7 linked regions of the Homo sapiens genome follow. The protein of the gene in region 5 purifies or fractionates together with the protein of the main gene of each other region. This does not show direct contact. Each region holds a gene or a part of one and is shown on either strand. Other genes may lie near its edges.

Region 1 (3,500 bases), on a different chromosome or scaffold from region 5:
AGTGCTTTGCTTTCTTTCTTTTTTTTTTTTGAAGACAGAGTCTTACTCTGTTGCCCAGGCTGGAGTGCAGTGGCGCGATCTTGGCTCACTGCAGCCTCTGCCTCCCGGATTCAAGTGATCCTCGTGCCTCAGCCTTCCAAGTAGCTGGGATTACAGGTGCGTGCTATCATGCCCGGCTAATGCATTTGAGTTTTGACTCTTCATGTCCTGGTATTCAAATTTGCCAGGCAATGCATTTTAAAGTAAGGATTTGAATTAAATACTGAAGACCCTCTGAAGTTACATTAAAAATGTTAGCCTTCAGATCAGACAGTATTCTTAGGTATGTTGCTTCTAACTGTTTGGAATCAAAATATACCCCTCCACCCAAAATCTGACTCCTTTCAGATATCTCAGGATAACCTGACAATTCAGTTTTTGTTTTCCACTAAAAAGCTCAATGCTGCTGTGTGTTCTTTAGGTTCATATGGAGTCTTGAGTCAAATCAAACACTCCCCCAAAACATGCAATAAAAGCAGGTTTTCCTGTTGGACACTTCTATCAAAAGTTATATAATGTCTATACCAGTGTTGTCCAATAGAAGGTTCTGTGATAATGAAAATGTTGTATATCTGCATTATCCAATATGGTAGCTACTAGCTACATGTGCCTAGTAGAAGCGATGAACTGAATTTTATTTCATTTTAATTAACTTACATTTAACCACACATGGCTACAGTCTACCATATCTGACAGCACAGGTCTACACTGAGGTTCAGGTGCTCAGAGACAGTGAACAAAAGCAAGATTATTTGTCACTCTTCTTGTTGACACGCTCTCAGCAAGCTAGTTGGACCATGTGAGGCCAGGAAGGTGGGCAAACAAGGATAGCATCACCAAGCATTTCTTTGTGAACTAATTCCGCCACGGCCAAGACAATGTCCCACCATCCTTTGTGGAATAAGCATCTAAGAAGAAAATTTGCTTTCATTTGCAAAGATGCTGAAGAGAAAATGTTTTATCCACTGGCTGAATGAAAAGACTCTGGCTTGTAAATAACAAGGGTTTCATTTAGCAATTCTTTCAATTCTTCATCACATAAATATTAAGGGCCAACTGTGTGCCAGGCAAATTCTATGTACTGAGAATACAGCAGCAAACAAGGTAGACAAAATACTGGGTGTCATGGAGCTCACATTCTAGTAGACGAGTCAAAATTACTTCAGATAATAATAAATGCTATGAAGGAAACAAAATAGGGTAGTATAAAGGCTCTGTAACTCCAAAGTAATGTTTATACTAAACCAAGAAGATTAAAAAAAAAATCAGGAATTTGCAAGCATGAAACTTCTATCTTTAAAAATATTCACTGGAGGGAATGTATAGGGGTCAAGGTAGAATAAATGTGGTTTTGGGGAAAGAATATTTGTTAAGCTGGGAAGAGCTAAGTCTGCCTGGGGTGATCCTTAGACTCAAATAAGGTATTTCAATGAGCAAGGCAGGAGGTAGAAACAAGAATAGATTAAAATTACACAACAGACTTCTACTTGCAGAGGTTCCAGATAGTTTGAATTAGGTTTGCATTTACATTCACACTTGGGTGGCAGGAGTATGAAATGTGTGAATCAAAGACCTCGAGTCACAGAAATAAATATGTCACCTAATAAATCACTTATTTAGCAGGGGGATAAAATGTAATAAATAATAGGAAATCCCGGAGTTGTATTTAGCAGACTAAATATTGTGATCAATCTGTGCATTTATTTTATATGCTGCTTTAATGACTATGATCTGGTTCTTTGTTTTGTTTTATTTTGTTTTGTTTTGAGATGGAGTCTCGCTCCGTTGCCCAGGCTGGAGTGCAGTGGCGCGATCTTACCATAACCTCTGCCTACCGGGTTCAGGTGATTCTCCTGAATCAGCCTCCTGAGTAGCTGGGATTACAGGTATGCGCCACCATGCCCAGCTAATATTTTTGTAATTCTATGCATTCATTTTAAAGTTATTGCTGGCAAAAACAGTATTTCAAAATGCATCTGGTGTGCACGTGTTTATAAACCATACTTCATTATCACTGCAACTGTAAAACTGTAAACTGTTATATTTCAAAATTCTTCCAGATTTCTAGTCAGAAGAGATATCAATCAATCTCATAAATAAACCAGACGTATATTTCCAATGACCTCAAAAGATGCCCAAACTCCATAGGTACACAGTAAACCTTATCACAACACTATTCATTGAGATAGAGCTGAACTGTCCATTTTGGGGCCCTCTCTAAGGGAGCTACAATTATATTACCATTTTGACTGTTTAAATGCACAAAAGGGTCAGGAATGGGCACTAATTTACAACTAGATTATTGGTAAAAACGGAATTTTACGTTATGAACATTTTTCTCTGTATAACTTGCTATCTGTATAACCTGCTTTCTGTATAACTTGCTATCACTAATTTCAGAACCAGGGAGAGAATAAAGAGTTGTTTCTCCACAACAATAAAGTCAGTCTACACCAGTAGACAGAGATAAGAATACAGGCAGAATGTAACACAAGGTACTTTGATGACAATATTCCTCAGAACTCCTTGTTCTTTGCTTCTCCTTTATTCACTTTTTTGAGGGGAGGAAGGACAGTTCCATTAACTTTTTTTAAAATCACTTAAAAAAGTTGATACATAACAGATGTACTTATTCACTTTTACTTGCTGTTCTTGGAATTTTCCACGGACATTAAATATTATAACTTTTAGTACCAAACTGAAGTTTGCATTTACAATTGTGAAGCTGGTACTCCCCACCAAAATCAGGCCATACTTGTTGGCTTGCACTGAAAATCCACAAGCAGTTCCCATAAATCTTTTGATGATGATATTTTTCAATGGTTTCCCATACCAAGTAGCTGCTGCTTGGGGCGCAGTATGGTTATTAAACAGTCTTATCTGTGATACACTTTAAAACAATACTGGGCTAAACAAAGGGAAGGGAAATCAAAAGACTTAAGTAGCTTCTTGGCTCCATCTTCCTTTACTACTCGCTGCACAAACACGTAGGAGGTGACAAGACAAAGATGAGGCGAGGCAAGCTCCAGGCTCCCTTGAGAGAAAAAAAGCCTATCAGCATTTCTATCAGTAAGCACACCACTTCCTACCTCAAAATCCATAGGATGAAACATATTCTTGATGATGACAACTCGCTCATGGCGCATCCGGGATGGTCCGGCTCGCCTCTCAGGTCTCCAATCCAACTGCCTGAGGCAATGAAGCAGTAACAACAAACTGTAAATTTTGCTTCAGACTTGTTGGAGAGAGAAAAGAATGAGTTGTTCATACAATACTTTACTGAGTATTTAATAAAGATAATTACTGGATTTTACAACAACAAACTGTATTTCAGTCATAGTTCCAGTCAGAAAACTTTCTGAAATAAAAATAATGGGCAGGGGGCCGTGTGCGGTGGCTCATACCTATAATCCCAGCACTTTGGGAGGCCGAGGCGGGCGGATCACTTGAGGCCAGGAGTT
Region 2 (3,500 bases), on a different chromosome or scaffold from region 5:
TAGGTTAAGACCTGAGTCTGCTCTGGCACAAGCACAGAAATGTTTTGCATTGGTAGGTACTACTTTCTTTTGTATTTTCCTAAACATCACTTTTATTTTCCAGCGTCAACAAAAATGAGTATCTCATTGTCTACAAAGTCGTCTTTTTCTTTCTTTCCCAAAGGATAACTACTGAGGAAAAAAGGTGCTGATTGATACCTAGCTCTTGTATTTCTCTGGACATTTGTTTGGGTTCATCTTGATAGATGTTTGTCCCTGATTTTATACTTCCCTAAACAGAACTGGTCTCCCTGCTTCATCATAAATCAATATAAAGAGCAAAAACATTTTGAGGAAACACTCTGTAAACATGACACCATGTAACTTGCTCTCTCACCCCTGCTTCATAGAACTGTTTCTTAATATTCAGAAACACAAAGCTCAAAAGGTTGTTTTTTTTTTTTTTTTAAGTAAAAATTTTTCTAGTAAAATAAGATACTTCCAGTTAGCTGTATGGCTGGAGTCGTAAAAGAATTTTCAGTTTAAAGGAAGAAATTATGTCACAAATATATATTATAAATGAAAATGACAAAAATTTTACTAGATTTAAAATTCATTTATTGCAAAGTTCACTTCTTACAAATTAGTATGCCCTCTTCTACAGTATTGAACATCTTGAAATTGTATAGTGGCCATGGAGTCCTAGTTGTACATAACCTTTGGCTCTCTGCTGCTGAGATACCTACTTGGAACCCTTTTGGATGCTGCAGATTATGTTAGCAAATCACCTGTTTTTTTGGAAATATTTATGTAATTTTGTGTGTTTATGTTAACATTCCATGAGTTTTTGAGTTCTTGATTTGACAGGCCTGTTTTGATTTTTTATAGTACCGCCAGGCATATACGGGAAACAACTCTTCACAAATCCAAGCAGCTATGAAAGGTTTTGAAGAGGTCATAAAGAAATTTCCAAGGTGTGCCGAAGGCTATGCACTATACGCCCAGGTAAATGTTTTTTCAGGTTTTTTAAAAATAACTGCATACATATGCCAAATCTCAGTATGGAAATCAGAAAACAGTGCTATCATGGTTGCAGCTTCTTTGGAAGCAGGTGGCTTTGTTCCTGATTGATTCTCATGGCCCCTGGTTGGTCCCGAATCACCTCAGAAGAGGCTCCTTTGTTACACAATTTGGAAATCATGGCCCTAAACTCAATATGGGGAAGCTTAAGGCGAGAATTTCCCTCCTGTCTTCATTTGGATTGGTTTTGCAAAAAGTAATTACCTTAGGAAAATTTACCGTATGCAATTGGTGGAGAAAATATCCACGGAAAGGCTTTTCTTTCTATCTGGTCACTGCCTTTTTATATGGCTAGGTTGTTGTAACGGTTTATTTTAATTTATCTTTGCTTTATCTAAAATTCCTGAAACTCTCTTGGTTTAGGATTGAAGCTATGGAAAGCAGGATTTAAATCTGAATTTTTTTATTGTAGTCTGAAATTCTTGAAAACTTCTTAGTTTTAAATCATCCATTTAAATGAAAATGATTAGCTTCTTGTAGTGACGGTCATACATTTTCCCCTCAAATAAAAGATCTCTGAATGACTCAGTTTTCTTTCTTAAAGCTGAAAATTGGTTTTGGTGTCTACATAAACTAGCCATCTCAATACTCTATATCAGGGGTACAGCTGCTTTGTGGCCTCTTAGGAATGGGGCTGCACAGCAGGTGAGCCTTGGGCAAGCATCACCACCTGAGCTCCACCTCCTGTCACTGTCAAATCTGCAGCAGCATTAGATTCTCATGCCTGATGATCTGAGGTGGAACAGTTTCATCCCAAAACCATCCCTCCTCCTCCTACCCCCATCCATGCAAAAATTGTCTTCCACAAAACCAATCCGTGGTGCCAAAAGTGCTGGGAAGGTGTTGGGGACTGCTGCTCTATGTAATTTATTTTTCTTTTTTTTTCTCTTTTTAATTACAAAAGACATGTTGGGTTTTTCCCCACAGCACAGAAATAGGAAACGATAACAAATTACTATCCCCTGGCTGGGTGTGGTGGCTCCTGCCTGCAATCCCAGCACTTTGGGAGGCTGAGGCAGGCGGATCACTTGAGCCAGGAGTTTTGAGACTAGCCTGGCCAGCATGGAGAAACCCCATCTCTACTAAAAATACAAAAATTAGCTGGGTGTGGTTTGGCGCACACCTGTTATCCCAGCAACTCGGGAGGCTGAGGTAGGAGAATCGCTTGAACCCAGGAGGCGGAGGTTGCAGTGAGCTGAGATCACACTACCACACTCCAGCCTGGGCAAGAGTGAGACTCCATTTCCAAAAAAAAAAAAAAAAAAAAAAAATACCATCGCTGGTTGACCCCTCTCCTTAAACCATTCTTAAGGATGCTTATTTTGTTTTTAATTTCCTTCATGGTATCTGTAGGCAGGTTATAAGAACAATTTCACAAGGATTTTAAGGGTTTATTGAGGGTGGAACTATGAGAAAATTGATTTGTGTTGGATCTGTTCTTTAGAGGTAGGTCTTATATATAACTACATTAAAGTGTACATTTTAATCCTATGAATGGGTACACTTGAGTTTATGCCTTATAATTAGTAACAAACCAGGAAATGACAGCAACATCCTCATCATTGTCATGGAATTCAGAAGGGCTTTTTTGGTGCAGATTTCTCTAAGCATCTAGAAGAGCAAAGGCCACCGAATAGGAACCACTACTGGGGAACAACTCCTCTGCAGAACTTTCCCAATAGCATATTTCCCTATTACCATTCTGCCTTCAAGATAGGTTTGGTTTGTATGAGCTGTCTTCTCATCAGCATTAGCATTATTACAGTCAGTTTGCACTCAAATTTCTTTTCTTTGGTCTGTTTTCTAATTTTAGCTTCACTATATAGTATATGTAACTTTATATATGCATACAGTACGTGTGTGTGTATGTGTATGTGTATATATATATACTTAGTGTAACTTTTTTGGCCCTCAAAGCTTTGGCGTAGATGCTGGCCAACTCGCAAAGTTACAGCTTGAGCATAGTCTGATATCCACAGAACTGTGCCTTCCATTTCAGCCGTGGGATTTGTCTTAAAAAGTTGATTATAGCTGCTGCTTTTGTTTTCAAAATAAGTATTTATTACATTATTGTTAACTATGACAAACAATTGGGGAAAATCCTAAATGTTAACAGAAAATTGAATTATGTTTGCAGAATTGTGGTACACTCACTTAATGGTATATTATGCAGCCATTAAAAGTTACAAATACATTAAAGTTACAAAGCAAGATACAGCACTGCCTATTATTAAAGGGAGAATTGCATACAAAATGAACTCAACCATGTGAAAGAAAACAAATAGGGAAGTAAATAGAGATAGAAAAATATATCAGGAAGGCATCCATGCTCACAATGATGGAAGCTATAAAAATATTTCTACTTTCTATATCTTTCTGATTTTTATTATAAAGAAGATGTGCTGGCTACATTTCTTTGATATTTTTAAGAGCGATTTTTA
Region 3 (3,500 bases), on a different chromosome or scaffold from region 5:
GTTAATTTAAATTTTTTCAGGGGGCTAATCAGTTATGCCAATACTATTTTTTGAACAACTTTTCTCTTCTAATTTGAAGAAGTCTTTATGAAATAAAGAAACATCTTTGTGCTGTCTCTTGTTGTATGGAAGTTTTTAATGTTTCTTTAGTCAGATCTGTTATTGTAATTTTTTTTTTTTTTTTTTTTTTTTTTTGAGGCAGAGTCTCGCTCTATCACCCAGGGCTGGAGTGCAGTGGCGCGATCTCGGCTCACTGCAAGCTCCGCCTCCGGGGTTCATGCCATTCTCCTGCCTCAGCCTCCCCAGTAGCTGGGACTACAGGCACCCGCCACCACGCCCGGCTAATTTTTTTGTGTTTTCAGTAGAGACGGGGTTTCACCGTGTTAGCCAGGATGCTCTCGTTCTCCTGACCTCGTGATCCGCCCGCCTCGGCCTCCCAAAGTGCTGGGATTACAGGCTTGAGCCACCGTGCCCGGCTCCTGTTATTGTAATTTTTTAAACAGGAGTTTTAACTTACTTTGAAGAGCTAGCAGTGGAATAGAAATTTAGACTTTGCCTGGAAGTTACAATGAGACACCGTTTAGTTCAATATAACATGGACCTATCTAATAATTAAAGCTGTTTATCTGAGCTTTCTTACAAAACATTGATTTTTCTCCCAAATCTGTTTATTTTTCTATGGATTCTGAATTTTAGGTCATGCCAAAAATGGCACCTCCCCCTTTTAACCTTATAATTGTTTATGTTAGTCTGTATTTTCTGTTTTCTTATAGGTGCTACTAAAAATTTTAGATCAATATAGACAGAAAGAATATGTAGCTCCCCGTGTTCTTCAGCAAGCATTCAACTATCTCAACCAAGGGGTGGTTCATTCTATAACCTGGAAGCAGATGAAGCCACACATACAGGTTAGTGTCAGAGAGCAGCTCTCCAAAATTATTCTCTGGTTAAATTAGGTTTTCTAGACAAAGTTAGTATTACTAATCCTATATTTTACATTTTATATATATACATTTTACCATTAATAATTTCTAATGAGTGAAGTCCTATGTCAGATATAAAGGGCTTAGAAATTTAAGCATTTGAGAAAAGTGAAGCCTTCAAGTTTTATGAGTCGGGAGACCTGGATTCACTTGATCTTGCTTAATCTCATTAAGCCTCATTTTCTCCTCTATTAAGGCACATAGTGTTTTTCTATTCTTATCTAAAAGTTGCTAGGATTAAATGAGGTATTTTGTGAGAAAGTATTTTGAAAACTTACCAGGGCTCTACTAAGGTAGTGTTATTTTGCAGGAATTGAAGACTGATATGTGACCGTTTTATTTTGTAGGTATGAGCAAGGTTTTTATTTATTTTCTTGGATTGTTAAGTTCAATAGCATCATTGTTTCTATATCGTTTGCCTAAAGGTAGAATTCAGTATTGTTATTTAGCTAAAGAACAAATGGGAATGGAAAATTATAGGCCACTAATAAATAAATACTTCCTTGTATACAAATAATTGGATAATTTGACAGTCTTAGGAACTGAATACCTACTCTCTCCCAAACTGTGAATTCTTAAATTTTATAAATGATATCTGAAAAGAAAAATCTTTCACTTTGCTGTTTGCTGTCCAGGATAGAATTTTAGTGTTATTACCCGTCTTACCAACAGATATCTTTTCTTTGATTTATGTAGATATCTTAATAACTATTTGCCTAATCACTTTGATCAAATAGTGATAATTTCTTTGCAATTAATTAATAAAGATACTGATTTCATTTGCTGTGTTCCTGTAAAGTAAGGGTGAGTTGTGATAACATTTCTTCTCTACTTCATACCTTTGGCTTTATTTTTACATAGCTGTAAAGTAGGAATAAGAAAACGCTGATCCTTAGGCTGAATTTTTTCACTTAGAATTATTTAATTTGGAATTAAGTGGTAAGAGATGATCCTGTTTTTATATAAATTGTTGTTAGAGCCTAAAAGGGCTTAATAGGACATTAGTAGCAGTGCACAGAGAGGCTAGTAGATAGGACTTTTCTCTAACTGAAACATTTGTGGAGTAGGAAATTAGTTTTTTTGGGAATAGAAGTAAAGAAAATTCCAATTTTTTTTTTTTGGAGCTGGAGTCTCACTCTGTTGCACAGGCTGGACTGCAGTGGCATGATCATGGCTCACTGCAGCCCTGAGCTCCTAGGCTCAAGAGACCCTCCAAGATGGACGCCACCATGCTTGGCTACGTTTTTATGTATTTTTTTGGAGATGGGGTCTCGCTACAGTGCCCAGGCTGGTCTTGAACTCCTGTCCTCAAGCGATCCTTCTGCCCTTGGGCTTCCAAAGAGGTAGGATTACAGACATGAGTCACCATGCCTGGCCCTTTAATATTGTTAATACATGGACATTTAGGACTAAAATGGAAATGTTAAAAAAAATTTCAAAATAAGAACTATAATAGTAAATATAACCTCGACTTGACATTTTACACACACACAGAGTTTGGAAAACTAACATCATAAAGGCTGTCAACAAGTACATTATTAGTATTCCTCAAACTTGAATAGCCTATACCCATTTGTTACGTTTTTTTTTTTTTCTCATTTTAGAATATCTCTGAAGATGTGATTTTTTCTGTGATGTGTTATAAAGATGAGGATGAAGAGCTGTGGCAAGAAGATCCATATGAGTATATAAGGATGAAATTTGGTAATTGAGATGGTTTTATTTCTCATCAGTTCCTGGATATGTAAAGTAATATAACTAAATTTATATTTTTAAGCAAATGTTATTACTTTATTAAATCTCCCAGGTTCTGTTTTGCATGACATAATCTGAAACTTTGAGAGTTTGATGTTATTTTGTTGAACTAGAGAACTGGAGATTGTCGGATGTGGGAGATGAAAAGCCACCTCATTCATCTCTCTTACGGGTGCTCAAGTTGAGCCATCTGTTACTTATGCTGTTGCGATGCTGATCTGCAGGGACCATCCGTTTTTGTGCCTTTTGGGAGACTCATTTATAGATTGGGTTGTTCTCATGTGGGAAATACTTTGGATTTCTGCATATTTTAGGGGTACCCCAATTTGGTTTGCTTGCTTGTCTGAGAGACTAAGTGTTCCACAAGGGAAATAAATTTCGTATGGGGGCCCTACTGTGTGTGGTCCAATTCTTTGGGTGTCCTTTTAACTTGGATCTTCCTGGAAACTGTTGAATTGTGTAGGTGGCCTGATTTATTCCCTTTTATTCCCAGTTTGTATTAATTGCTTCATGGAACACTCAAGCACTTAACATAGCAAAATATTAATTTGCATACCTATCTCCCACAACTTAGAAGCTTTCTCAGGACAGGAATTTTACCTTATTTGCTTAATTTTGCATTTTCTGTCTCTTCTACACCTCTGCATTCCTCCACTAGTGCTTGGCCTCCAGTATGCCTTCAATACATGTTGAAAGAAATGATTGCTAAATCTAGCGCTGCGTGCTGAAAGTGCTGTAATGAAGCAGTGCTTTCCCCTTAGT
Region 4 (2,279 bases), on a different chromosome or scaffold from region 5:
AGCCGAGATCGCATAATTGCACTCCAGCCTGGGAAATGAGCAAAATTCCATCTCAAAATAATAATAATAATAATAATAATAATATTTAATGACAGGCTGGGCCAGGTGGCTCATGCCCGTAATCCTAGCATTTTAAGAGACAGAGGCAGGTAGATCATGTGAACTCAGGAATTCACAACCAGCCTGGGCAATATGACAAGACCCCATCTCTACAAAAAATACAAAAATTAGGTGTGGTGGTGCGCACCTGTAGTCCCAGCTACTTGGGAGGCTGAGGTGAGAGGATGGCTTGAGCCTGGGAGGCAGAGGTTGCATTGAGCTGTGATAATGTCACTGCACTCCAGCCTGGGTAATAGAGCGAGACCCTATCTCAAAAAAATAAAAAGGCTGGGTGTGGTGTTTACACCTGTAATCCCAGCACTTTGGGAGGCTGAGGTGGGTGGATCACCTGAGGTCAGGAGTTTGAGACCAGCCTGCCTGTCCAATATGGTGAAACCCCGTCTCTACTAAAAATACAAAAATTAGCCAGGTATGGTGGTGGGTGGCTGTAGTCCCAGCTACTTGGGAGGCTGAGGCAGGAGAATCGCTTGAACCTGGGAGGCGGAGGTTGCAGTGAGCCGAGATCGCACCATTGCACTACAGCCTGGGTGACAGAGCAAGACTCCATTTCAAAAAATAAGTAAATAAAATAAAAATGTTTAATGACTTGTTCTTGGAGGTCAAGGAGATGTCTCAGAGGCAGTCTCCCTGCACTGCCCTTTTAGCAGCTCTTGGCCAGGTAAAGGTCCTGTGGCAAGAAGGTGCTTCAGACCATAGGAGGTGCCCCAGGTACTCAGGAGGAAGCCTTAGAAGAGCGGCAAGGAGGCCGGGCGTGGTGGCTCATGCCTGTAATCCCAGCACTTTGGGAGGCCGAGGGGGGTAGATCACGAGGTCAAGCAATTGAGACCATCCTGGCCAACATGGTGAAACCTCGTCACTACTAAAAACACAAAATTTAGCTGGGCATGGTGGCATGCGCCTGTAGTCCCAGCTACTTGGGAGGCTGAGGCAGGAGAATCGCTTGAATCCGGGAGGTGGAGGTTGCAGTGAGCTGAGATCGCGCCACTGCACTCCAGCCTGGCTACAGAGTGGGACTCCATCTCAAAGAAAAAAAAAAGAGTGGCAGGGAGCTTGAATGTTATGGTGCAACTTGGACTGTCACCATTGCCCACCCTACCCCAGATCCCAAGACAAAAGCGTGGTTGAAGGAGCACGTGGAGCCTGTGTTCGGCTTCCCCCAGTTTGTCCGGTTCAGCTGGCGCACGGCCCAGACCATCCTGGAGAAAGAGGCGGAAGATGTTATATGGTGGGTGTCATGGATGTCCTGGGGGTGCTATAGGGAAGGAAGGAGGGAGGCCAGCGTTCAGCCCTGCCTGAGAGGGTTGCTCCCTGTGTAAGTGGTCACTGTCATCACCTCTCTCCCACAGGGAGGACTCAGCATCCGAGAATCAGGAGGGACTCAGGAAGATCACATCCTACTTCCTCAATGAAGGGTCCCAAGCCCGTCCCCGTTCTTCCCACCGATATTTCCTGGAACGCGGCCTGGAGTCAGCAACCAGCCTCTAGCAGCTGCCTCTACGCGCTCTACCTGCTTCCCCAACCCAGACATTAAAATTGTTTAAGGAGAACCACACGTAGGGGATGTACTTTTGGGACAGAAGCAAGGTGGGAGTGTGCTCTGCAGCCGGGTCCAGCTACTTCCTTTTGGAACCTTAAATAGAATGGGTGTTGGTTGATTAATTTTATTTGGTTTGATTTTTTTCATTTTTAAATTTTATTTATTTTATTTTATTTTATTTTATTTTTTTGAGAGACGAAGTCTCACTCTGTCACCCAGGCTGGAGTAGAATGGGGCAATCTCAGCTCACTGCAACCTCTGCCTTCCAGGTTCAAGCGATTCTCCTGCCTCAATTTCCCAAGCAGCTGGGACTATAGGCGTGTGCCATGCCCAACTAATTTTTTTTTTTTTTTGAGACACAGTCTCCTGTTGCCCAGGCTGGAGTACCATGGCACAATCTTGGCTCACTGCAACCTCCACCTCCCTGGTTCAAGCAATTCCCCTGCCTCAGCCTCCTGAGTAGCTGGGATTACAGGTGCACACCACCACACCCGGCTAATTTTCTTTTCTTTTCTTTCTTTCTTTTTTTTTTAATTTGAGACAGAGTCTCACTTTGTCACCAGGCTGGAGTGCAGTGATGCAATTTTGGCTCACTGCAACCTCTGCCTCCTGGGTTCAAGCG
Region 5 (2,357 bases):
GGAGCTTCCAGCGCCTGCTCGCCCATTTATGGGAGGCGGGCGCTATCCCCACTTTACAGCCGGGGCTCGACGAATCAAGGCCACACAGGCAGTGGGAGCAAAGGCAAAGCCCGGCAGGTGTGGGGCTGGGTCCCTAGGGGTGGAGGACGGCGGGCGGGCGCCCTGCTCGTGCTGCGAGTGCCCAGCCCCAGCCCGCAGGCGTCGCCTCGCCTTGCCCGCCCTGCTCATGCCGGGCCTTCCCCACCCGACTGCGCCCAGCCTCCTTCACCCGGTCCCCTCCCGCTTTACCAATCCCTGCCCCACGCAGCTCCTCAGAGCCCCAGGGCTCTTGCAGCCCTAAGGGGCTGGACTGTGTTGCCCGCCCGCACTATGGGATGCCCGGGCGGGCTCGCACCTCCCTTCTTATCTGTGCTGCCCTCCGTGCCCAGCATTGCGCCTGGGGTGCAGGGAACTCACCTGGAGGGAGGGAGGGAGGGAATGAATGAATGAATGAATGATGGGGAGCCTGTGGACCAGCAGCCAGGGGACGCGCCGGCTCCTCTTTGCAGGGACTCCGAGACGCGCCTTAATTCATCTCCCAGAACTGTCGGCCCAGCTGGGAAGCCAGGCAGGGAGGGGGACGGGCCCCCCGCAGGCTCGCGGCAGAGACGGGAAAGGCGCAGGTGCCGGACTCGCAGACAGCTTGGCGCCCGCCACCCGCTATCCATCCAGGGAGGGGCCTGGGCCGGGAGAGGGCGCCTGAGGAGACAGGGCCCCGCCGTGACCACAGGCCCCTCGCGTCTCCGCAGGACTTCATCTGCGTGTCGTACCTGGAGCCCGAGCAGCAGGCGCGGACGCTGGCGTCGCGGGCGGACACCCAGGCCCAGGCGCTGTGCGCGCAGTGCGCGGAGAAGTTCGCGGTGGAGCGGCCGCAGGCGCACCGGCTGTTCGTGCTGGTGGACGGGCGCTGCTTCCAGCTGGCGGACGACGCGCTGCCGCACTGCATCAAGGGCTACCTGCTGCGCAGCGAGCCCAAGCGCGACTTCCACTTTGTCTACCGGCCCCTGGACGGTGGTGGCGGCGGCGGCGGCGGGAGCCCGCCCTGCCTGGTGGTGCGGGAGCCCAACTTCCTGTGAGGCCCTCCCGGGGCGCCTCCCCTCACCCCCAGGCGCACGTCTGGCCCCGCCTCTGGCTGCGCACTCCCGACCGCGACGTCCACGCAGCAGAGGGACATGGGCCATTCCATGACGTGCCCAGGCCAACGTCGCAGGACAGTTGTGAAAATAACATGACGCTCGTCCAAGGCCACTTCCTGAGGGCAAGTCCTAATAGCCCTGAGACACCGAGACGGCATGTTCTTCATTAGACGGAAAGGGAAACTGAGGCTCAGGAGAGAGGCGCTCCAGGCCGCTGCAGCCAACAAACCGGCGCCCTCTTCACACGTAGCTCCTCAGGCCATTCCCCATGAGTCCCCCACACCCACCCCATCCTCGGTCTTTGCAAAGAAGGGCCCGAGCTTAGTTTCCCCAGGACTGGCCTAGGAAGGAGCACCGGCCACAGCTGCTCCCCGTGCCACTCAGGGTGGACCCAGCATCTCAGGAGCACCTCAGGGTGTCGGTTAAGAGACAGGCCTCCACCCCTGCACCAGAGCCTGCTCTTAGCTCCCGGTGCCCCCAGACCCCGCAGCTCTGTGCCCGGCAAGAAGCAGCTAGACACACGCCAGGGCGCCAAGCACGGCCAGCTCCGCGGACCCATGGACAAGCCCAGCCCCGCCTCAGGGAAAACAGGGCCTTTCCCTACAGGACACGCCCCAGAGCTGTGGCAGATTGCAGGAGCCATCGTGTGGGGAGAATTTAATAAAAGCCCTTTTGAAAATGACATCTTTTCTGAAGGGGCTGGAGCTCTGCACAGCCAGCCCCGCATTCACAGCCTCACCTCCTTCCCGGGTGGCTTCAGAAGACCCCCTCTTTGCCATGGGGATCCTGTCCTCTGCCAGAACCTGTGGCATACTCTCAGCCACCCTCAGCACCCTCAGCCCTTGGGACCCTGGCCCCTGTCGGCCCGTCAGCCTCCCACCATCCTTGGCTCCCGTCATCCCCAGCTTAGGATCAGAACCATCTGTCACCTCTCCCAGGGATACCATTGCCTGTAGTATTTGCCTGGTCAACTCCTATCCAACCTCCTCCAGGAAGCTTTTTTTTTTTTTTTTTTTTTTTTTTTTAAGACGGGGTCTCATCTTGTTCTGCTGCCCTGGAGGGAGTACAGTTGTGTGATCAGGGCTCACTGCAGCCTCCATCTCCTGGGCTCAGGAAGTCCTCCCACCTCAGCCCCCCAAGTAGCTGGGACTACAGGCTGGTGCCACCACACCTGGCTAATTT
Region 6 (3,500 bases), on a different chromosome or scaffold from region 5:
GTTTACAACACAAAAAAAAACTGCCCTGAAAACATCTGGAAGAGACAAATAGGAAATAATAAAAAAAATAAATAAAAGCAAAATTCTCTGAGTAAAATTAGCATGTGGAAAGGGCCTCCACTGCAGAGAGAAAGGAAGGGGGCTCTGCCTATTCAGTGACCCTAATAGTCAGCTCCAGCAGCACCCCTTCCCCAGGTCCTTCATTCTGGAGAAGACCTTTCCAGTATCATTAAAATCAAGGTAAAGTGGTTCTCTCCAGAGACAGCCTGGAGAAGCAACACGAAACGGATGACACCTGACTGCACTTAGGAAATTGATGGGTGGGAAAACACAAGGAGAAATGGTCAATCTCCTTGATGTCCCAGGAAAGCCAGGTATCCTCCCGGCAAAACATACCCACTAATATTGGGCTTGTTTTTAAAGCATCTATTTCAATCCAACACATCAGGACCGAAAACCAAATCAAGTCAGTCAGACTTCATGCCAGAGAGATTCAAAGATTGTGGTTGCCTTGTCTCCGTGGGCTGATCTCCAAAGATGAGGAAGCTGACAGGAGCTTATTCCCAGAGATAGAAAGGGCAAAATGGCTGCAAGGCTGAGGCAGAGGGGAGAGAAGGGAGGCCCAGACTGCTGCTTAGACCAGGTAATACCTCTCCTTCCAAGGTGAAGAGAGGGGGACACTCATTTCCCAATTCCCTGGACCTTCTGTTCCCCAAGAAGCATTACATACAGAGTAAATGGGGGTTTGGAACTGAATAACAAAATCGAACACACACCAAAAAAATACACATTGGTCCCCCTGCAAAATCAGGTATCCAGGATTCCAAGAGCCAACTCTGAGGTGTTGCCCATGAATCAGGCTCATCTGACTCCTGATTTTTCCGATGTGTCCTTCCTCTTCCCCTAAGTAGAAGAAACACTTCCTCAACAGAAAGAGCTCTATAGCCTGGTGAGTATGGCTGCCCTGGTGTCTAAGGAAACAAATACAGCCAGCTCCTCACTAACAATGTTAGCTGGGCCCACAATGAAATTTAACCTGTGACACAACTGTACTTTTCATTTAAACTTTCATTTGGAGAGCAGCAGTGTTTGGAGACCTACAGTTTGTCCTGCTAATAAAGACAAGTGTTGGGACCTTTAAGGATGCCATTCATCTTTGGCTTTTTATTAAATTCAATTTTCTTAAGCCCATGATACATTATGAAATTAGGAGTTGACATTCCTCTGGAAATAAAAATATCTATCAAACATTAATAGAAAAAAACCCTCTATTACCAAGAATTTATGGCTTAAAGTTGATCTCTTTCCACTTTTTTACAAGCACATGGTTTGTTTTAGATATCCGAAATGCTATTATAGATCTAGGATTTCATTAGTATTTATTATAAAATAGTATGTGCTTCAGCTTCCACTCTGACCAGCACCAAGTCAACATCCCCAGCAGACTCTCTGGAAACTTGGCCTTTGGGTTTCCGCATTGCAGCAAATAACAGCAAATACTGTAGCTCAATATTCAAACTTTCCTGATGTTAGCTTCCTCACCCATAGGGAAATGGGGCCAACTACGTGCTGAAACTCAGTGCCATGCTCCCAGAGAGGAAGAACAAGCCAGACTCGGATCCACGCAAAAAAAAAAAAAAGGAGGGGGGTAGGCCCCTGAAATTCCCAGGGTGCCTACACCCAAGGCTCAGGACACATCAAATTGGGCCTATTATAAACATATCTCTGATAATGCTAGCTCATCAGCCAAGCCTTCTCCCCAAGACCAAGAAGAGGTGGTTTCAAGCACCAGTCTCAAAACGTGACTTTGCAGGGGCCCTTCCTCCACAACATGAGGAGCTGTTATTAACAATGAGCCTACACACTGGCATATTCACTTGAGCTACTGAGGATGCAAAAGAGAAGCTTCTGAGAAAAGACTCTCTGAGAAATTAGAGCAGCAAGGACCTCACTGAGGTACTTCTTACCATCCCATATTGCCCAGCCAGTACTTCCATACTTCCCAGAACCTCAAAATACTGGCCCAAACAGCCCAGTAGTGGGAGAGGTGCCCCAATCTGCACCAAGTTGGCACAACTCTGCAGCCAGGGCACCTGAAGCATGACAAACATTTTGAAGATTTTTAGCTGATAATGATCAGAGATGGAACCCCAACACTACAGGTTAGTGGCATTAATCCCAACACAAAGATTTGTGACAATGTGCCCAAGTGCCAGCCTCTATGTCCAGTTGCTCAGATAATGAAACTGTTATTCCTGACCCTGACCTTTTCTCTCAGCCAATTTCATCATTCCCCTAGGAAGAGGTTTATTTCAGAAACAGTTTTGTGTAAAAGTAGCACCAGGAAGGAAGGAAGGACCAGTCGTATTTACCAGCCCTCTTTCCCTATCCTAATAATAGCTTTACAATTCTTTGCCTTTGTATGCCATTTGCATTCAATTAAACTACCTGAGTGCCTACTTTGTGTAGGCTATCAGACAGGGGCTGGAGCAGGACTAGAGATAAGATGTAGTCTCCACTTTGGAGAAGCACATGGACTATGAGTGGAAAAGATAGGCAAACAAAGAACAGTACACTGTGATAAATACCTTAGTGGAGGGACGTACACAGTGTTGTTTTTCCATTCACAAAAGTGTAGTTTCACATACATTTTCTTATTTTACCCTCCTTAATCCTGGCAGACAGGTTACATCATCATCACCATCACCATCTTCAGGTCATAAATCAATACTATTAAGCATCTACTATTCACCAGGCAGGGGCTGGCTGTAGACACAGAGATGAATACAATGAAAGGTGGCTCCTCTCTCTGAGATGCTCAAGTCTGGGCAAAGGGTGAAGAGGAGCTGGCCTCCAGTGCTCTCCAAGACATGTGGAAAATGCAATCGTTTTATTCCATTTATTGTTTACTACGTGGCAGATACTGTGCTAATAGGAATGATCTCATTTAATCCTCCTAACTCATGAGGTGGGAATCATAGTCATCCCTATTTCACAAATAAACTAAGGCCCAAAGATGTTAACTCACTTGCTGACACTTACACTGCTTGTGAGGGACAGAGCTGGAACTCCAAAATGGGAAAATGAGAATGAGACTTAAGAGTAGGACTAGCAGCTTTCAAAATATGAAGGGTCAAGAAAGATCTGGTTCTCTTAGTCTAAAAGGCTATCCTGTAGAGAACTCAAGTCTACCATCTAGAAAGAGAGGCTGCTCTCAAATTTTAAGAGCAATGAATGTGGACTCTCCAGGCAGAAAAGTTCTAGAGTTTGCTACTGAAAAGACTCCACCATGGCTGCAGTAACACAGATGGCACAGATGGCATCAGGGAAGGCAGGAACCATGTGCCTTCAGTGTGATCTCCAGCACCTAATTCCTATGCTGGCACACAGGCTTCACTCTCTCAACTTTTGTTGTGTAATCACATGAAAGGGCTGCTAAGTGGAGGAGACAAGCCAAAGGCCTAGCTGTACCAGAAGACACAAAACTCTCCGCAGAATCA
Region 7 (3,500 bases), on a different chromosome or scaffold from region 5:
TTTCCATCTCTGTATCCAAAGGGGTCCTATGTGTTCACTGGATTTTCTTTTTTTTTTTTTCTTTTTTTTGAGGCGGAGTCTCGCTCTTGTTGCCCAGGCTGGAGTGCAATGGCATGATCTCGGCTCACTGCAACCTCCGCCTCCTGGGTCCAAGCGATTCTCCTGCCTCAGCTTCCCGAGTAGGTGGGACTACAGGCGTGCACCATGATTCCCAGCTAATTTTTTTTGTATTTTTAGTAGAGACAGGGTTTCACCATGTTGGCCAGGATGGTCTCGAGCTCTTGACCTCGGGATCCGCCTGCCTTGGCCTCCCAAAGTGCTGGGATTACAGATGTGAGCCACCGCACCCAGCCGATTTTCAATGGAATTAGACTAAAAGCTAGGAGTAATTGAAAGTATAGGAAGTTCTTCAGGAAATCTATATAGATGCAGATGCTTTGCAGAGTCCTTGGTTTTGAGTCACATTGTCCTTCAACCTGTTAACACGACCCTGGGGATTCTTTAGATTGCTCTGGAAGCAGCCAAAGCACTGGATGACAAGAACTGCTGGGAAAAGCTGGGAGAAGTGGCCCTGCTGCAGGGGAACCACCAGATTGTGGAAATGTGCTATCAGCGTACCAAAAACTTTGACAAACTTTCCTTCCTGTATCTTATCACTGGCAACTTAGAAAAACTTCGCAAGATGATGAAGATTGGTGAGGCCCTCAAACTAAGGATGGGAAGAGGGGTTCTTGGGGGAAGGAGGAAGGTGAATTAAGGAGAAAGAGAACTTAAGAGAAAAGACCTAACTTGGTGTCTCTTACTTGGTGCAGCTGAGATCAGAAAGGACATGAGTGGCCACTATCAGAATGCCCTATACCTGGGTGATGTGTCAGAGCGTGTGCGGATCCTGAAGAACTGTGGACAGAGTAAGTATCCGAGACTTGCCAGCTTTTTCAGGGTCTGAGGAAGTATTTTTCTGTTTTTGTTGAGTTAATCTGTGTATAGTGGTGAGGGATTTCTCTTTATTGTGCATTTTTTTAGGAGAGACAACATGCTCCTACTGTGCTTAGAAGATTTTCTTCAAAGCCAAAGGGAGGTGCAGCCAGAATATTCAGTCCAGCCAAACACCCTTAGGAGAATAGTTATTCATGGGGGAGATAGGAGGTTTTAAAAGGTCTTGAGTGGACGCCCTAGTAAATGCACTTGGTTGGATGCCATTAGAATTTTATTCTTTATTTTCAGTTTGGAGGTTTCACTCATTTATTCATGTATATAGTCAAGGGATATTTTTTGAGAACCCACTATATACCAAGCATTATATTAGCATTTAAGATACATTAGGAAACAAGCAAGGTGAAAGATGAGGTTTGGACCAAGGCGCTATTAGTGGAGGGGTGAGCAGTGGTCAGATTCAGGATATATTTTAAGGTAGAAACAACATGATTTATTGCGGTAACTAGATTTGAGATGTAACAGAGAGGAGTCAGGGATATCCAAGGTTCTCAGCACGGATGGATACGTCTCAAAGATAAGCAGCTATATTAGTTCTCTATTTCTGTGTAACAAATTATCCCCAAATTTAGTAGTTTAAAACCACAAACATTTATTATTTCACAATTTGTGGCATGGCTTAGCTAGGTGCCTCCGGCTTAGGATCTCTCATGAGGCTACAGTCAAAGTGTTGGCCAGAACTGCAGATATCTGAAGACTCACCGGGGAGAGAATCTACTTCTGCACTCACTCAATGGCCATTGGCAGCCCCCATGTCCTTGCTCCCTGTTGTCTAAGAAACATCACTTTCTTTTCGTGTTGACCTCTCCATAGGAGTTTGTAACGTGGTAGCTAGTTTCCCTTACAGCAAGTGAGCAAAAGAGGGCACCCCAAGATAGAAGCCACAATCTTTGTAACCAGATCTAGGAAGTAACATCCCATCACATCTGCCATGTTCCATCCATTAGAAGCTATTTAATAAATCCAGCCCACACTTAAGAGGTGGGTATTTTGCAACAACTTGAATACCAGGAGTCAGGGATTACTGGGGGGCCATTTCAGAGGTTGCTTACCACAGCAGCATGCATTTGGAAATGTACCTATACCACAAAGTCTGTTTTCTCTACAGAGTCCCTGGCCTATCTCACAGCTGCTACCCATGGCTTAGATGAAGAAGCTGAGAGCCTAAAGGAGACATTTGACCCAGAGAAGGAGACAGTGAGTCTTTATTTACATAATTGTCTCTTATTACAGGATTAACTCTAGGATCTTAGAACAATTTAAAATTATGAATGTCACTCTCCCACCTGGTTACCAGGAGAGGCAGAGAAACAAATGAGATCAAAGGAGGCTCCATAACTTTCCTTACGTGACTTCCAAGTGCTATTTGTTTTTAGCCTCTTTTCTTCTACTATTCAGATCCCAGACATTGACCCTAATGCCAAGCTGCTCCAGCCACCTGCACCTATCATGCCATTGGATACCAATTGGCCTTTATTGACTGTATCCAAAGGATTTTTTGAAGGCACCATTGCCAGCAAAGGTAAGTACCTATTTCTCCCATAGCACTTTTGTTGTTTGTTTTGTGAAGAACTGTCCTAGAGAATACCATTAGCATTTAGTTTAACTTGTCCTTTTTTTCTGCATGGAGCCTAATGGAATATTGAAATGCCAGTCATTTATGGTGCAGTCTTAAAAACTTAAGATAGCATTTTCAGGTCATTAAAGAAAATTTGGAAAATAGGGAGAAAAAAAGGGATCCCTCTACTACCATCAATAACTTCGGTTAATATTTTGGTGTATTTTCTTAGGTTTTACTATATATGTAGTCATGTTCTTTGTTCAGTATTTTATCATTCATGACATACAATCTTAAAGGTACTAATTCAACTACCTGTAATTCCGGTATGTGGGTATAGGCAGATGTGTGCTATCACCCTCCACCACTTCCACCCTTAACCTCCTCCTGTTTTCTGGGTCTCCTAGTTCATTTCCCGTGAGTAAGAGCCTAAACAGACTCTTGAGCATTTTGTGCCAAACCCCACTCTTTTCTCCACCTCCTCTATCTACCCTATGCCTGATGCCCTGTACACATTGTAGTGGTGGTAGCTTAGCAAAGCGCTCAGGAAGAAATTCAAGAGTTGGTAGCCAAAGGCTGGTAAGTACAAATTATTTAAGAGCCAGTTTTTGGTAGCAGGAAGGCCAGTTCCTTCCATCTGTCTTCTATTCCCTCCCTCTGTGAAAGCTACTGCAAGTTAGCATAACATATATACCACAAAAATAAATAATACACAAAAATAAATAGTAAGTAGGCAGAAGCTTGGCACCTGTTTTTGAAAGGATTTAACCTGCCTACAGAAAAGGCCGTATCTCAGACTTGCTGGACTATAACCAGTTCCGTTCTGTTCCTTCCCTCTGTAGGGAAGGGAGGAGCACTGGCTGCTGACATTGACATTGACACTGTTGGTACAGAGGGCTGGGGAGAGGATGCAGAGCTGCAGTTGGATGAAGGTAAAAGTGCTGTTTTA

What was found.
Region 1: the proteins of RIN3 (region 5) and HTATSF1 purify together in Homo sapiens (affinity purification with mass spectrometry; one large-scale study listed by BioGRID and IntAct). This does not show direct contact.
Region 2: the proteins of RIN3 (region 5) and TOMM70 purify together in Homo sapiens (affinity purification with mass spectrometry; one large-scale study listed by BioGRID and IntAct). This does not show direct contact.
Region 3: the proteins of RIN3 (region 5) and IPO8 purify together in Homo sapiens (affinity purification with mass spectrometry; one large-scale study listed by BioGRID and IntAct). This does not show direct contact.
Region 4: the proteins of RIN3 (region 5) and RNASEH2A purify together in Homo sapiens (affinity purification with mass spectrometry; one large-scale study listed by BioGRID and IntAct). This does not show direct contact.
Region 6: the proteins of RIN3 (region 5) and ERI3 purify together in Homo sapiens (affinity purification with mass spectrometry; one large-scale study listed by BioGRID and IntAct). This does not show direct contact.
Region 7: the proteins of RIN3 (region 5) and COPA purify together in Homo sapiens (affinity purification with mass spectrometry; one large-scale study listed by BioGRID and IntAct). This does not show direct contact.

The regions. Positions count from the first base shown.
Region 1 is NC_000023.11:136,504,092-136,507,591, reverse strand, and holds part of HTATSF1 (17S U2 SnRNP complex component HTATSF1), read right to left. Parts: intron 3,229-3,500; coding exon 3,129-3,228; intron 1-3,128. UniProt on the Homo sapiens protein: Component of the 17S U2 SnRNP complex of the spliceosome, a large ribonucleoprotein complex that removes introns from transcribed pre-mRNAs.
Region 2 is NC_000003.12:100,370,090-100,373,589, reverse strand, and holds part of TOMM70 (mitochondrial import receptor subunit TOM70), read left to right. Parts: coding exon 1-52; intron 53-867; coding exon 868-984; intron 985-3,500. UniProt on the Homo sapiens protein: Acts as a receptor of the preprotein translocase complex of the outer mitochondrial membrane (TOM complex). Recognizes and mediates the translocation of mitochondrial preproteins from the cytosol into the mitochondria in a chaperone dependent manner.
Region 3 is NC_000012.12:30,668,370-30,671,869, reverse strand, and holds part of IPO8 (importin-8), read left to right. Parts: intron 1-773; coding exon 774-908; intron 909-2,587; coding exon 2,588-2,687; intron 2,688-3,500. UniProt on the Homo sapiens protein: Involved in nuclear protein import, either by acting as autonomous nuclear transport receptor or as an adapter-like protein in association with the importin-beta subunit KPNB1.
Region 4 is NC_000019.10:12,811,862-12,814,140, forward strand, and holds the end of RNASEH2A (ribonuclease H2 subunit A), read left to right. Parts: intron 1-1,221; coding exon 1,222-1,345; intron 1,346-1,466; coding exon 1,467-1,605; 3' UTR 1,606-1,779; downstream 1,780-2,279. UniProt on the Homo sapiens protein: Catalytic subunit of RNase HII, an endonuclease that specifically degrades the RNA of RNA:DNA hybrids. Participates in DNA replication, possibly by mediating the removal of lagging-strand Okazaki fragment RNA primers during DNA replication.
Region 5 is NC_000014.9:92,687,138-92,689,494, forward strand, and holds the end of RIN3 (ras and Rab interactor 3), read left to right. Parts: intron 1-788; coding exon 789-1,115; 3' UTR 1,116-1,857; downstream 1,858-2,357. UniProt on the Homo sapiens protein: Ras effector protein that functions as a guanine nucleotide exchange (GEF) for RAB5B and RAB31, by exchanging bound GDP for free GTP. Required for normal RAB31 function.
Region 6 is NC_000001.11:44,320,758-44,324,257, forward strand, and holds part of ERI3 (ERI1 exoribonuclease 3), read right to left. Parts: intron 1-3,500.
Region 7 is NC_000001.11:160,294,751-160,298,250, reverse strand, and holds part of COPA (coatomer subunit alpha), read left to right. Parts: intron 1-505; coding exon 506-695; intron 696-812; coding exon 813-908; intron 909-2,101; coding exon 2,102-2,190; intron 2,191-2,391; coding exon 2,392-2,515; intron 2,516-3,393; coding exon 3,394-3,483; intron 3,484-3,500. UniProt on the Homo sapiens protein: The coatomer is a cytosolic protein complex that binds to dilysine motifs and reversibly associates with Golgi non-clathrin-coated vesicles, which further mediate biosynthetic protein transport from the ER, via the Golgi up to the trans Golgi network.